Linked DNA regions of Homo sapiens: region 2 is linked to region 1. A link means that fine-mapping ties the variant in region 1 to the expression of a gene that starts in the linked region. Tissue or cell type: blood mononuclear cells. Region 1 holds a variant in brackets; the other region holds the start of a gene. All regions are shown on one strand. Distances are from middle to middle.

Region 1 (8,192 bases):
AAATAAGAGAAACTCTAAAAATAAAAATTAAATTAAAAAAAGGAAAAACTATCACTGCCAAAACAATTTGATAAAATTTCTAAGAACTGAAAGATATGAATATTTTCACATTGAAAGGGTTGACTTACAATGAGTGAAATAGCCATCATAAACTTTCAGGACACTGAAAAACAAAAATGAAATCCTAAGAGCTTTCAAAAATGTTTTTAAAAGTCACATACTGTTCCAGTCATTAGTGTCATGCAACAAATTCTCCCAACACTTAGTGGGTTAAAACAACAATTTTATTATGCTCTTGGGTTTTGTGGGTCAGTAATTTAGGCAGAGCGCAGTAGGAATGGCTTATCTCTTCTCCACAATGTCTGTGACTTCAGCTGGGAAGACAACTAGAGATGACGGACAGATGGCTTAAATCATCTGAAGTCTCATTCACTCATATATTTAGCATTTGATGCTGGCTGTCAGCTTGAACCTTAGCTGGGGCTGTTGACAGAGGAACCCCATGAGGCCTCTCTATTTGCCATGGGTTTCCTTAGAGCATAATGTTTAGGGTAGTCAGACTTCTTATATTGCCACTTAGGGTTCCGCAAACAAGTGTCCCCATGAACAAGGCAAAAGGCATACTGCTTCTTTTAAACTAGCCTCGAAATTACCCCAACATCACTTCCACTATAATGTGTTGGATATAAGCAAATTACTGGCCATGCAGATTCAAAGGGAAGGTACACACATCTCAATGGGAGAGTAGAAAGGTCACATTGTAGAAAAGCATGTGAGACAAAGATATTTTGCAACCATTTTTGGAAATACAATCTTCCACACCACAAACATATAAAACTAGAATGACTTCAGGTTGCTCAAACAGTAAAACTGGAAGTTGTATAGTGAGGGATTGATGCCATTAAAATATGAAGGAAAATACATTTAAACCTAGAATTCCATTTGCAAGCTAACTGTAAATAACATGCCGGCGGATTCTTTACATTTTCAGACATGCAATATCAGGAGCATTTGTCTCCCATGCACTCTTTCTCATAAAGTTACTGATGGATTTGCTCCAAGATGAAGACTTAAACCAAGAAAGAAGAATATCTGGGCTCTAGAAACCAGAGTACTCCATACAACCCAGAGGCAAAGAACATCTCTGAAAGAGGAAAACCAGAGTCCAATGACAAATATGCACCAGGTACAGTAAGCCTCCAGTCCAGGCTCTAGGAGAAGCTGTTTCACAAACATGATATTAATAGAATACATGATGTCTATACTGAGAGAAGACCTAGACAATTGGCAACAGTTTAGTTTTGAATAACGTGTGTGTGTGTGTGTGTGTGTGTGTGTGTATATATATATTTATATAATATATGGAAAACTAAGGAGAGGAGTCAAAAGTAAGATTAATTACTAACTTCAGGAAGAACATAATTGTGCAAGAACATAATCACTGGCTATGGCATTGCTCAGCTGTGAAAAGCATTTACATACTGATGAACATATTTAACAAAATGAATATTGTTCTAATGAAAACTATTAAAAAGGATGGAGTGGATCTTGGAAGCTTGCATGTGTGTGGGACGGTGTGGTTGTGAAAGGGAACTAAATCCTTATTTTTCATGGTAGAAAGTTAATAGAAAATGTCTAAAACTGAAAAATCCTGAAGAAGCAATATAAACATATTATTTAGAAATATGGAGAAAAGAGGCCGGGCACGGTGGTTCACGCCTGTAATCCCAGCACTTTGGGAGGCCAAGGGGGGGGTGGATCGCCGGAGGTCAGAAGTTCAAGACCAGCCTGGTCCACATGGTGAAACCCCATCTCTACTAATTATATAAAAATTAGCCGGGCGTGGTGGCAGTTGCCTGTAATACCAGCTACTCAGGAGGCTGAGGCAGGATAATTGCTTGAACCCGGGAGGCGGAGGTTGCAATGAGCCGAGATTGCACCATTGCGCTTCAGCCTGGGCAACAAGAGCAAAAACTTCGTCTCAAAAAAAAGAAATATGGAGAAAAGAATTAATTTAAAAAATGTAAAGAGGCTATACTTATAGAATGGGGAAGAGGGACACAGAGGACTTTGACTTTAATCATCAGGCTTGTACAAGCAATTTATGTGTATATAATGTTGCCAAAAATAAACATACGCCAGGCATGATGGCTTACTTTGGGAAGCCAAGGAGGGATTTGAGCTCAGGAGTTTGAGACCAGGCTGGGCGACATACTGAGGCTTTATCTCGACTAAATATTAAAAAAAAAAAAAAATTAGCCAGGCATGGTTGTGGACACCTGTACTCCCAGCTACCCAGGAGGCTGAGGTGGGAGGATCGCTTGAGCCCTGAGGGTCAAGGCTATGGTGAGCCATAATTACACCACTGCACTGAAGCCAAGGCAACAGAGCAAAACCCTGTCTCAAAAAGTAAATAAACATAAATAGTAAATAACAAGCATAGAAATTTATCAGTTGCTCTTGTTGGTGGGATGGTGGTGGTATCTTGGTGGTGTAGATAATGCTGTATTTTGGTAGGAGAGGGTTTTCATAATAGTCTCGCTGCATGCTAATATCACCCCCTGAGCCTTGCCAACAGAGATTTTTGCTTAATGGTCCAGAGTGAGACCTGGTCATAGATCTGTTTTTGATGCTCCCAGGTTGAGAACCACTGCACTAAAGCTGGGTTCAGCAATATCTTTCTGTACAGAGCTAGGTAACAATTATGCTAGGCTTTTTTTTTTTTTTGTGGCCACATATGATCTCTAATCTAATGTTTTGTTTTGATTTGTTTTGTTTTACAACCCTTTAAAAATGTAAAAACCAGGCTAAGCTCATCTGCTGCGAGCAACATTTGGATAGGGAGCAGTAATTTGTTAACCCCTGCACTACAGATTCCTAACCAGTTACCCTTCAGCACCCTTTTGCTTCTTCCTGATTCATGACAATTTCAATTAACAAATATTCACCACGTTTATTTTCTTTCCATCCAAAAATGTTATCAAATTGACAAATGATTTTTAAAGTACAAATTCAAGGACAAAGCTGAGAAAGGTGAGGAGATGACAGCAGATGAGGAATGCCAATAAATAATTGGAAAATATAAATAAATAACAAACAGATGGAAGGCCGGTTCTTGACAAAGCAAAGTGCAGGAATGCTAAAGTGCAGACACCTGCAGAGGGATTGCAGCTTGAATTGAGCCAATTTTCCCTATGGAAACTTAGAGAACTTCAGGACTTGATGGTCAAAAGTACCACAGAAATTGGGCTAAACCATAAGACCAAAAACAATGGAAGTGATAGAAAGCCTATTATTTAGCACTCAGAGCAAAGGCCTTGCTTCATCCTCCAAAGCTGCAAGGCAGAGGATTATAGAATTCTTCACTGTGAAACTGAGCAGCTCAAGAGAAAAATCTCTTAGTATCTCCTACATGAGAAGAGCACCTTGCTGCCTTATTACCCTACAGTGAATTCTGCCAAACTGCACTCAGTGATTCCATTTGCTTCTCAGGGCCTCCTTTTAACTACAAGTGGGGAGCCAAGCATTGCCAGGTGTTTGAGAAAAGTCTCTAATGTGAAAACAGGCCCACAATAATAGAAAATCAAGCCCAGAAAAAAAGAGAATATGCAAGAAGCATAAAAAAACTTTCAAAATTATGTAACTAATATGCTCAAAAAGATTAAAGGATATATTACAGTTGTGAAACAATAACAAAAGGCTATTAAGAAGGATCCAAGTAAGAATTTTAAAACACTTAAATGTAGAATAACTAAAATAGAAAATTCAACAGATATGAAAGATAAAGTTGTGAAAATGTCTCAGAAACCAAGAGACAGATGGAAAATTTAAAAATTAAGAAAGTTAGAGAATCAGTATAGAAGACCCAATAGCTAAACTAATAACAGTTCCAGAGTAGAAAACAGAGAAAACAAAGGAGAGAAGAATCATCATAGAAGTAAAATAAGACAATTTCCAAAACCAAAACACAAAAATCTTCAGATTGAAGGGCCTATCGCATGCATAATACAATAAATAAAACACAGCAAAGGACATCACAATGCATTTCAAACCCCAGGGCATTGAAAAAAAAAAAAAAGAGAGAAAATCTTAAATACTTTTAGAAAGAGAAAACAGGTCATTGAACAGAGGATTTGGAAATCAAATAGCATTAGACTTTCAGCAGCAAAACTAAAACAGGGTGGGTAGGTGGGTAGGGAATGAAATATAGAGCAGTGTCTTTAAAATTCTCAGTGAAAATGCTCTCCAATTTAGAATTTTTAAGCCATCAAACTGTCATTCAAACATGGAAGCTGGATATATATTTTCAAACATTCCATGCATTCTTTCTTGAAAAGCTTTAGAGGTTGCTATACCAAAAGAAAGATGTGAGGTAGAGAAAACAGGAAATCCTATGGAGGTGAGAGCAGAGAAAACCCCAGAAAGACTGCTGTGTTGCAGCAGCCTGGAGAGCCACCAGGAGCAATTAGAGCCAGTCAGAGGGCCCCTGCAGAATGTTCTCCTAGGCAAACCCAGTCCTGATGTGTTTGAGTACACTGGAAATATTAAAAGACATTTGACAGGCCAGGTGTGGTGGCTCATGCCTGTAATCCCAGCACTTTGGGAGGCTGAGGCAGGTGGATCACTTGAGGTCAGGAGTTCAAGACCAGCCTGGGCAATATGGGGAAACCCCTTCTCTACTAAAAATACAAAATTAGCCAGGCGTGGTGGCATGTGCCTGTAGTCCCAGCTACTTGGGAGGCTGAGGCAGGAGAATTGCTTGAACCTGGGAGGCAGAGGTTGCAGTGAGCCAAGATTGTGCCACTGCACTCCAGCCTGGGTGACAGAGTAAAACTCCGTCTCAATAAAAGAAAAGACATTTGACAGATCTGTTTGAGCACTTAGGGGTAGGGAGTTGGGGGAAATTATCAATAGCTACATAGAAAACTAAACAGATACTTATTGTAAGGTACATGGATATGCTTTGATCAAGGAATAGGCCAAGGCAGATATCCAGGCCTGCATGACTCA[G/A]CAAGTTTGGCAGGCAGACGCACACCTCCACTTGTTATATAACCTATTTGTGTAAGTTCATACTTGGCTCTGAGCCACTATTGTCTGTAAAAGGTGTAATTGCCCTGCTGACACTGTGCACAGGGGCTTGGCTCAGCTCGACTGGTCATGGCTTTTGTTCAGGCATTGGTACCCAGAGAAAGAGAGAGAGCAAGCAAAGCTGTTCATCTTGCAGGTGAACAGAGGGGAGGCAGGACACAGCTTGGCATGGCACGGCATGGCACAACACTGCTCGTGCTCTTGCCCAGAGAGAGAAAGAGTTAAGCTGCTGACCCTGAAGGCAAGGGAGAGCCAGCTGTGCAGCTGCAGGTGTGGGGGTAGTAGAAGCCACAGAGCTGGAGCAGACATCCAAGATAAAGGTGGACAGTGTAAGAGAGCTAATGTGGGTAAGCTGCTGATGAAAAAGCTGCTGAATAAAACTGCATTTCACCTGCCTATGGCCCCCTGAGTGATCTTTCTGCCCATCGACCCACTCCTCCCCTTGGACGGCAGCATAGGCTGGACCCAGACCCCTGAACCTAATACTTATTTACTGCAGGAAAACCCAAATGATAATCATGGACTTAGTCTCCTTGACTACGGAGAGAATTCTTACAAATATTCATAATGTAAAATTTAGCCTTAATTAAACCAAAATTCTGATATAATTATATTGAAAAATTGACTAGGGGAATTAGTAGGAGAGATTTTATAAATGAGCTGAATCATTTTTGAACAAAAATATCAATAGACGATGTCTAGAATTGGTGAAGATAAAGCACATTTTTAAAGATGAGCACATTGTTTTGAAATACAGTGGCAATGTCAGAAAAAAAGCTAAAATTGTGTGGCCTCTAGACAGCAGGTGAGGAAAGTACAAAAATACCTTTAATAAAAACATGTGATTTTAACAAGACAAAAGTATATAAAACAAATTACAATCATCAACAGTAACTTTAAGCATTCCCTCCTTGAAAGGACGTAATCTAACAGGATTACAGTATAGTTAGTTTTAAGAACCCAAATCAGAAACTATAAGAAGTTTTCCTTATGTAAATTCTTACTATAAACATTTCTTACTATAAACATTTCTTACTAAAAACATTTATTTTGTTTTTATAGTAAGTATTCAAGTTATACTGTTAGTGGAAAAACAAGGAAAGAAATGTATCCACAGCAGAATATAAATTTTAAGAAAAATACACATGCATATATATTTATACAAAGGGTATCCCTGCAAGGATGTAGCTGATGTTGAGAAGAGTCGATGCCTGTGAGGAAGAGGACTAGAATACAGAGGTCAGAAATGAGAGGAAGACTTGCTTATCCCTATATACTTCTGTGTATTGTCTTACTTTAAAATATCCTTATGAATGAATTCTACTTATGTTAAAGTAAGGGAGATTTTCGTTATAGTGAGAAAATACAGTAAAAAATTACTATATGTGTCTTATATTATGTCCAATATTATATATAAAGAAAATGAGTATTTATATGCATTTATGGTTCTGACATAAGATATACAGGAAGAAAAGCATTTGCAGCCTGGATATATAAAATAATGGATTTATTTTGAAATGTTTTGAGTTTAGTGCCTGTGTGATAGCCAGAACCTGGAGTACCTGAAAGTCATTTGGGCTGGAGATAAAGCAAGTGCTGTAAAAGCCACTGAATAAATAAGATCACCTGGGAAATTTTTAAGCGTGAATGAGAGGAGAAGGGAGTTGGGTGTGAAAGCAACAGTAATTTAAGGAACAACTCAGGAAAAGAGATTAAAATGAAGCCAAAGAATGTGTTAAGAACATTGGTCATGCTACCTGCCGCATACACAATCCTTTCTAAGGAAAGTTGCTTTTCTTAAGGGAGAAAGTGGCCATGCTTAGCTTGCTTTGACCCCCATTTTCTCCACAGCTGATTGGTCTAGCTTGGGCCCCAGACATACATCTATCTATCCACTCATCCACACATATGTATGTATATGTATTTATGTATTGTACTTCTGTATGTCCTCGAGAGAAGGAGGAAAAGATGATGAATTTCATAAGACATGAGGAGGTATTAGTAAGATGAAATAATAAAAAATAGAGATACTACAAAGAAAAAACTAAAACATATGCAGAGAGAGAGAAGCCAATTTATCAAAAAGGACAATATAAAATTAGAAATATCAGCCTCCTAAAAGAATAGTGTCAACTTTAAAATACAACCATGAGCAAACCTCTAAAAGTACTTTGTTTACTCAGTAATGTGTTTAAATCTCATCTATATGACTATAAGAAAACTGAATTTATGGCCTAGCAAATTAAACAAAGAACTTTAGTGTGCTAGCTAATCTCACTGACATCAAATTCTAAAATATGATTTTTTTGACATGACTCAGCTCTGTATCATAACAAATTTTACTGTTTTGTTAGCCTCCCATATAATGTAAAGATATACTGTCTTGAAGTCATTCTACTTCAACAGACACATCTGACTTTCTGCCATGAAGTTTGTAAAATATGTTTTAGATAACTGTGGACAGTCAAAAACATGACTGATGTAGGAGAAACTGATAGTTTATGAATCTTACTGCTAATCACATCAGATGTAATGAACTTAATTAAACTACTGAGGTTTTGAGGGTATTTTAAGGTTTGTTTTTTTAACCTTAAACGGAATCATTTGTTCCATACACACTATACAAACTTCAGCATGATTTCCACTATCTGGAACTGAACTCCCTCTGATGTCTCCCCTCTGCAGTTGTTCCAATAATTTCTTCTGTAACCTTCACACTTAAAATGTAGATGGTTGTTCAGGGTTCAACAGTGAAAAACTGAGGAGATCCTCAGAGAGCAACAAAATTACTAGTGGATCTCCACTGTGGCTCTGAAAGTTCCTTTTGCCATGCAAGGTATCATATTCACAGATTGCAGGGATTGGTTCGTGTGCATTTTCGTGGGGGACTAGGCTTGTGAGGATGTAAAGCAACTGGAATTTTTGTACACTGCTGGTGGGTGTATAAACTAGTAAACACTTTGGAAAACTGCTAACATCCACAAAAGCCAAACAAATACATACCCTCTGACCCAGCAATACCACTGTAGGCATAGAGTCAACAGAAGTACATAGATATATGTGCACCAGAGGTACGAACAAGAATGTTCACATCACTACTATTT
Region 2 (8,192 bases), 84 kb after region 1:
TTCACTGCTATTGGAATCACTCAGTGGAGGTCTTGACTGTTTGGTTAATTGAATAATATGAAAATTGTGGAGCTGGGAGGTGGTAATGATTGTGCCTGATTAAAAGATATGTAACAATTTTGGCATTTGGTTATCTGTTGACACATATATAAGTCAGTTTTAAAATTCATAGCTTGTTCTGATTGTCAGGTGATCTATGACTTGTAACTGCTTGCGCTTGGTTGATTGGTGTTAAATAAATACTCTGATTAGGAGGGTGATGTAAAGGATGGTATGGATGATAAATTAAGGATGAGGAGTAAGAAGTAGTAATTACTAGAAAAGACAGCAAATAATGTCAAAGACCTAGAGATGAGGGGAAATGTAATTCTCAGGGGTGATATAAAAGGTGAAGAAGATGTATATTTATTGTCGTGTTTACTAGAAAAAATACAAAGCCTGAGAATTTACCAACAATACTGTTTAAGAAAAGAGTAACAAAAAGAGGGGGAGGATTTAAAGAAAATCATTAGGTAAAACTATAGTGAGAGGTAATTAAAATGTCAAACCATCCTTAAAGCGTAGGTAAATTACCGTAGTCCAGGAAACACAGGTTTAGGAGTTCAGATTGACAATTAACTCAGAGTCGCTATGCTCAGCTCTGAGATCTTGGCAAATTATACACTCAATTAACTTCTGCAAAATAAAGTTACAATTACAAAATAAAGTCATTATCATTGAATTTCATATATTTCTTATTAAATGAGGCCATGTTCAAAGGTGAAAGTGATTTGTAAACCATATGAATCTATAGAAACATATTGCATTATTAAGCATGGTTAGAAAAAAGAGTGGTGAAACTTTTCTTTGATATGCTGTGGACTCTCCAAATTTTATAAATAGAAGCAGGAAGAAGATAGAAAATATAAGGCTTTTTTTGTATTTTTGTAGAGACGGGGTTTCACCATGTTGACCAGGCTGGTCTCAAATTCCTGACCTCAGGTGATCCTCCCGCCTTGGCCTCCCAAAATGCTGGGATTACAGGTGTGAGCCACTGCGCCCAGCCATGGTGGCATGTGCCTGTAATCCCAGCTACTCAGGAGGCTGAGGCAGGAGAATTGCTTGAACCCAGAAAGTGGAGGTTGTGGTGAGCCGAGATTGCGCCATTGCACTCCAGCCTGGGCAACAAGAGCAAAACTCCGTCTCAGAAAAAAAAAAAAAAAAAAAAAAAAAAAAAAAAAAAAAACCAGAAAATGTAAGGCTTAAAAGCATTGGTTTTACAATTTTAAAATTAATTCAGTATTGTATTTTGGCTCTGAATCATTTAGCATTCTTTATCCTCAGCAATCTCATCTGAAAAACTGGTATAATTTTAGCACTTACTCATCAGAATATTTCTGAGAATTAAGCAATACATATAAAGGCTTTGACACATATATACTCTAACTATAAAAGTAATTACAAATATTAGAATTGTTATTAAGTGGAGCAAATGGAACTAGAATTGGTGCCAATATGACTCAGGTTTCTAATAATTCTGGAAGATGACATGAAAAGTAGAAAATACGTCAGAGAAGAGCTCTGACATAAAGCAATTGTAGAGATTTATCTCATAAAAATTCTTAAGAGAAGCAAACATTCCTATCAGGAGTTCACTTTGAAATTGATAGCAAGAAAATGACCCCAGGTAACAAGCCTAGGAAAATAAGTTTAACATGTTGCTGTCATCTTTCTGTGGTTCATCCTAGTTGAGGTCTGGAAGTCCAGACCTGGGTTAGAAATTGACTAAAGAATACGAAGCCATGAGGTTGGTCACCAAGGAGCTTTGGGAGAAAGATAAACTGTGGCTGCCAAAACCCGACAAATATGCCACATTTCCAAAGCAAGCATCCAAGTTTGGACATCACGTGAATTTTTAATTTAAAAGAATCTTGTCAGCTCTGCAGAGCTAAAGACCATGTTCATATACATGCTTCTAGGGTTACTTCTAACTCTGAGTCTCTGATTCTATAATTCTACTTTGGTAACTGACTTATTACTAACCATAAATCACATGAATGCTCGGCATGGGATATGGCACATTATCCATGTTTAGCTAAGTGAGGCAGCCACAACTTTATGGTTAAACGTTCAGACCATAGGGCAAGACTGCCTGAGTTTGAATTAACGGCTTTTCTACTCACAAGCCACATGGCCTGGAGTTCTGTCACTTTCCTTCATGTACCTTACTTGTAAAATGGGAATAACATAAATACTTTCCTTTTAGGCTTTTTGGTGCTATGGTGAGGCTGAAATGAGTTGGTATTTGTAAAACATTTTTCAGAAGTTATTTCACTAAACCAGCAATTCTCACATTGTAGCTGCATCAGAATCATATGGAAGGCTTGTTAACACATGGACTCCTAAGCCTCCTTCGTACAGTTTCTGAATCAGTGGGTCTGGGATGGATCCCGCAAATTTTTGATCTTAACGAAGTCCAAAGTAATGCTGATGCTGGACCCGTGACCCTATCTTGAGATCCACTGCCCTAAAACATTCATTGCAAATTGTCATCAAAAGCTTAAGTGCTATGTAACTACGTGGAAGGAAACAAGGTCATTTTAGTTATGTTAACTCAGTGTTTATGAGTATTGGGAGCCCCACCAAGAATTGCAGGAGATATTACATGTGGGCAAGTTGGTAGAGGTGATTCTGGAGGCATCTCTGCCTCCAGATGGTAGGGTTGGAGATGAGAAAGGAGAATGTAATCCAAGCAGAAATAGTAGTATTTAAATCCGGTTCTGTGATAATGATTTAAAAGAATTCCTCTGAGACATCTATATACGATGTAATATTGTTTGGCAGTTAAAAAACAAAAGGGAAATATTGCCATTTGTCACACATGGATGAACCTGGAGGACATTATGCCAAGTGAAATAAGCCAGAAACCAAAAGAAAAATAGTGTATGATCTCACTTATATATGTGAAATCTTTTTCTAAAAGGTCGATTATACAGAGATAGAGAATTAAATAGTGGTTATAGGGGTTGGAGAAAGGAAATGGAAAAATGTAGATCAGAGAATACACAGTAGCATACATTTATATAGATCTAATGTGCAAGAGGACTATAGTTAATAAAATTGTATGGTATTTGGGATTCTTGCTAAAAGAGTAGATTTTAGCTGCTCGTGTCACAAAAACAAAAATGGGGTAACTATGTGAGATGATGGATATGTTGTTTCACTATAGTAACCATTTTACTATCTGTATATAGCCCATAACATGTTGTATACCTTAAATATACGCAATATAATTTACTTATTTTTAAAAGAGGGGTTTAAATAAAACATTGACACTGCAGGTATCACAGGTCATTAACGCTAACTTAGCCTTCAAATAGAACTTTGGGAGCCACAGGACCAAGGACAGCCTGCGGCGATTTACGTAAACCCTTAAACCAAAAGGCCCACCTGTCAACAGGTGGAAGAGGTCAAGGAGGAAATGAACGGGCGGCCACTGAAACTGCTCTGCCACCCAGCCAGGACCTGCCAACTTGCTAGGAGAAAGCCCTGGGAATTTAAAGAGTGAAGCCACGGCGAATTAGCTTCCCACACGCTCGTAAACATAAAGAGGGGCCCGGTGGTCGTTTCTCATCCTTGTGCTGCTGAGCCCCGGCCGCGTCCCCAGACACAGAAGTCGGGCTCATCCCCCGCCCTCGCTCCGCCTTCCTTCCTTCCCTCCCAGAGCTCCGGACCAGCTCCGCACGACCCCAGCAGCTGAGCCCGGGACCGAGCCCGGGACCTAGCCCGGGCAGCTCGAGCCCATTGGTCACCAGGGCAAACAGGTGAGCGCCTCGGCCAATCCTTCCCCGGAAAGGGCTGGAACCCCACGCCGGCTGGGGCTTGGCGTGGGAATGGAGCGAGTACCGTGGCTGCAGAAGCGGGCGCTGGGGCGGGGAGGGCTGAGGGTGGGGGAGGGAAGACGCACCCGGAGAAGGTGGGGGCATGAAAGCACACGACAATTCTTCGGTGACTGGTGCCAGGCAAAAAAAAAAAACACACACTGAGGAAAGACAATCAATAGATGGAGACATCTGTGACAGATTTGTCCAAAAAAGACAATTTGAGGAGAAGCTCTTGGGACTTTGGAGCAAAATGGAGTGATTAGTAGTAGTTAATATTCAAGTGATAACTTTAAGGAGTATTAAGTACACTACTGAGGGAGGAGAAAGGAAATTTAAAAACCTCCACTTAGCCTTTTGTTTCTGCAACAGCAAGCATCATAATAAAAGAACGCTTCTGGGTTAATGTGGTTATGAGTTATAGAACTTTGAAGCTGTGGAAGCGGCTCCAGGTCTCCCTGAAGAGCATTACTCCTGGCTGTAAGCCAAAAAGAATAAGGCTTTTTGCTCACTTTGGAGCAGAGAACTTTTCCTCCCTCAGGTTTGGACACAATTTTCCATTTCCTGGGAAGATTTTCTGTCTCTGCCTATGTCACAAGAGGACTCAGGACCTGAAAGAAGAGCTCAGGTATTGCCAATTCCTATTTCATTATGTACATTTTCAGCCTTACGTTTGTGAGAATCCCTTATTCATGTGTTGTCTTATGCTATTGATCCTCTTTTAAATAATTTGAACGTGGGCATACCCAGAACTTTTATTTAAGCTGAACGAGAGAATTACCTTCATCCTGCTGTTCCTTCCTTTGTTTATCTAATGATAAGGTGGAAATGCTGTCTCCAATCATACAAAGCTTATTTAAAATTATTGTAACCAGGTGGTTACGATGGCAAAAGTGGTCATATGATTAATCCTATCTTAAATTTTAATTTGGACTAAATTATAATAATACATCCATCATCTTTTTATCTGTATGAAAATCCAAGCAGTTCAGCCCCAGTGTTATTTCTCAGTGTAGTTTGTAGCTAAAGGGTGGTTGCTGGTGGAATCCAACATCATGCTGTTCCACAGAACGGTGGGATTTATTACAAATTATGAAGGTCATTTTGCTTGGAAAAGCACAATAAAGAGTTTATTTCAATCCTGCATTTCAGGAGAGAATTAGGTTTGAATTCCTGGGCTTGCCCCACATATGGGTAACAGATACCATTTTTTTTTTTCTGACAAGCTGAGCATATTTCTTCCCTGGTTATGCTCCCCACCTCCTGTGGCAGCCATGAGCTGGAGGAGGGACCAAGGAAAAAGGCAGAGAGATGTCCGAAGCTGAGCAAAAGCAGACAGCATCATGCCTGCACAGGGTCAGCATGGCTCAAGCCCTCTCAGCTGGTCAGTCGCTGTTGCTTATGGTCATTACTTGGCAGTGAAGTGTTCAATGTGTCTTTTTTTTTGGCAGGGACTTGAAAACCGGTTAGAAAGAGATTTATTCTCCCTTCCAGTGGATTATTACAACCTTTAAAAAATGTTTCTGAAGAAGGTTTAATAAAATGAAAAAACATTATATATGAAATGATAAAATGTGTTACAAAATTGAGTTTGATCACATGTACACATATACACGTAAATGTATGTACACCTATACATATACACACAATAGATGAAAAAGGCTGGAAAGGAATACAACAACATGTTTAAGGATTATATAAGTGGTGAGATTGAGTAATTTTTTTCCTTTTTACTGCTTAATTACAGTTTCCAAATGTTTTATTATGCACAGATATTACTGTTATAATCAGTTTCTTGAAAGTTACTCTAAAAGAATTAATGTATATAAAGGAAACTAAATTCTATATATTTTAGTTGTCACAATCTTTCTTATGGTTTCCAGTTTCCCTTTTAATGAATGCCTGAGTAATAGGGATTGCTGGTTTTCATAAAGAAGTGAGAAGCTGTGAAGAAATTTTCACAACAGTAAATATCCCACTTGATCATAAAGCGCAGTGTGAGGCCAGCAGCACACACTATAGTTTTGTAAAGAGTGCATATGACCACAAAGGGTAGGAATGGAATTGACCACTTACGACCCTTAAAGAAGGTCTCCCAGATTCCCAGAGTGAGTGTGTGGTGGTCCTGGGACTTTGCTCCACCACTCTTTATAACTCTGAGGTATGATGTTTTTTCAGGATGAAGGTAAAAGGCAGAGGAATCACCTGCTTGCTGGTCTCCTTTGCTGTGATCTGCCTGGTCGCCACCCCTGGGGGCAAGGCCTGTCCTCGCCGCTGTGCCTGTTATATGCCTACGGAGGTACACTGCACATTTCGGTACCTGACTTCCATCCCAGACAGCATCCCGCCCAATGTGGAACGCATCAATTTAGGGTGTGTGAGACCTCATGTTTCCTCTTCTCAAAGAGGGATCAGTCGCAGCAGTGACTTGTCCCTCAAACATCTATGACTTTGGGAGATGAATCTCAATTGTTTTAACAATATTTCTTTTCTGAAATGAGCTCATGAGAATTTTGTTTGTTGGGGGCAATAAGAAAACTTTTCCTGGTAAACTTTTATTAGGAGAAAGTTCTTCTAGAATTTGAAGTCCCTCTTGGTAGGTTGGGAGACTCATGACGGTAAAAAGCTTCTTTCTGGCTACATTTTTGCTGGAAAATGATATAGTTTCTGTTAACTATTGGGGTTATGATCATTCATCATAAGAGATGACAGGGTAACTGGAAGTGTCTGCCTATATAATACACACACACACACACATACATACATATATATATATATGTATCCTTTTTATAGGCCCTTTGGTTTCTTTCCATACAAACTTATTTAAAATGGATGCCTAATTAAATTTTTAAAAATATGACTGTATTTTAAACGTTCATGAAAAAAAAGTCTGTGTGTGTCTGAATACACATGTTGGACTTAGCATCGTTTATTTGACATTAGTGAGCATGTACTATGCACTGGGGATACAATGGTAAGATATACTATTCACTTCTAGGATGTGTATTGATCGTTAAAAAGACCAGACAAATGTACGGTCAGTACAATTAATAAAAACTAATAGAGCATACAAAGTGTTTTAGAGACAGTCACTAATATTAAGAGCTAACATTAAGGTTGTGCTCAGTAGGTGCTGGCATTGGGTTAAGCACTGCATCCATTTAATCCTCATAACCCCTTTGGAGTGAGTTCTATTATTTACATTTTATAGATGAGGAAACTGAGGCACAGAAAGCCTGCTGATTTTACCCAGGGTTGTACCACTACTCTGTTGAGCCTGAGCTCGTAATCATACCCAAACGAGACGCCCAAGCCTGGCCTCCAGAGCCCAGGCTTCTTAACCACTGCTGACGAATTCCACCTGGGGGAGTGGTGAGGAGATAGTGTCATGAAAGAATGGGCTAGATATTAAGTGTTCACAAATAGAAAAAGGTGAGGTCAAGGGCATTCCAACCTGAGGGAACAGCATATATATAAAAGTTTGAAAATGATAAGAAATGTGACAAGTTCCCAGAATATGAGGGGGGTGATTGTAACTGAAATGGCAAGAACTGGGTAGAGAGCCGACCTTCTGTGGCATCTGGTGAATTTCAGTTTTTGAAGCATTTGATTGTCTCAATAGAGTACAGTTATAAAGAGAGGTATTGAGTTTTCTTGTGTTTATTTTGGTTATGACATTTGAACTTTAGTTGACAGACTTAGCTTATGCCTAGAATGTCATTTTTTATTTCAGATACAACAGCTTGGTTAGATTGATGGAAACAGATTTTTCTGGCCTGACCAAACTGGAGTTACTCATGCTTCACAGCAATGGCATTCACACAATCCCTGACAAGACCTTCTCAGATTTGCAGGCCTTGCAGGTGAGACTGATGGAGAGAGGGGGCAGGTTAAAGAGGTAAGGTGGGACCTGTGAGATAGACCTTCAAAGGCTGCCTATCTCTACACAATACGAAAATCAACATTCTGTAAATTAGAAGCAGACGTCAATGGAGAATGTTAACTGATTTTTAACTGTGGAACTGTGTGTATAAATTAGAATAATAAGAACTCTGAGGCAAGTTTTCTACTACCTCAAGCTAATAGAAAAAAAATCAATACCCAGAGACGATAAACCTTCAAAATTTAATCCTAAAAGGACACTTCTAGTCATGTTTATCTGGGAATTGAATGTGGTTCCTAAAAGTAATGACTATCTTAGACAGATAATAGTTTTATATAAATCAATGTACTATTTTCAGTTTCATTTTATTTACTTATTCATGTTCTACATTGTTCAATTTTTTAAAGTTAAGAGGACTCCCAAGAATGCATAAAATCATGCAAGAATGA

What was found. PIP is the estimated chance that this variant, and not a neighbour inherited with it, causes the effect.
Region 2: IGSF10 starts here. The variant in region 1 is fine-mapped to the expression of IGSF10 in blood mononuclear cells (TOPMed, PIP 0.95).

Annotation. Positions count from the first base shown.
Region 1 is chr3:151,540,578-151,548,769 of GRCh38, reverse strand. It overlaps a transcript of IGSF10 not described here. Among named protein-coding and RNA genes, the nearest start is that of LINC02066, 7.5 kb to the left of the region's middle. The variant G/A (reference allele first, on the strand shown) is at 5,011.
Region 2 is chr3:151,456,557-151,464,748 of GRCh38, reverse strand. IGSF10 (immunoglobulin superfamily member 10) reads left to right here and starts at 3,688. Exons shown (of 8, transcript NM_178822.5): 1 at 3,688-3,803; 2 at 4,402-4,488; 3 at 6,039-6,233; 4 at 7,594-7,723. The coding sequence starts at 6,040.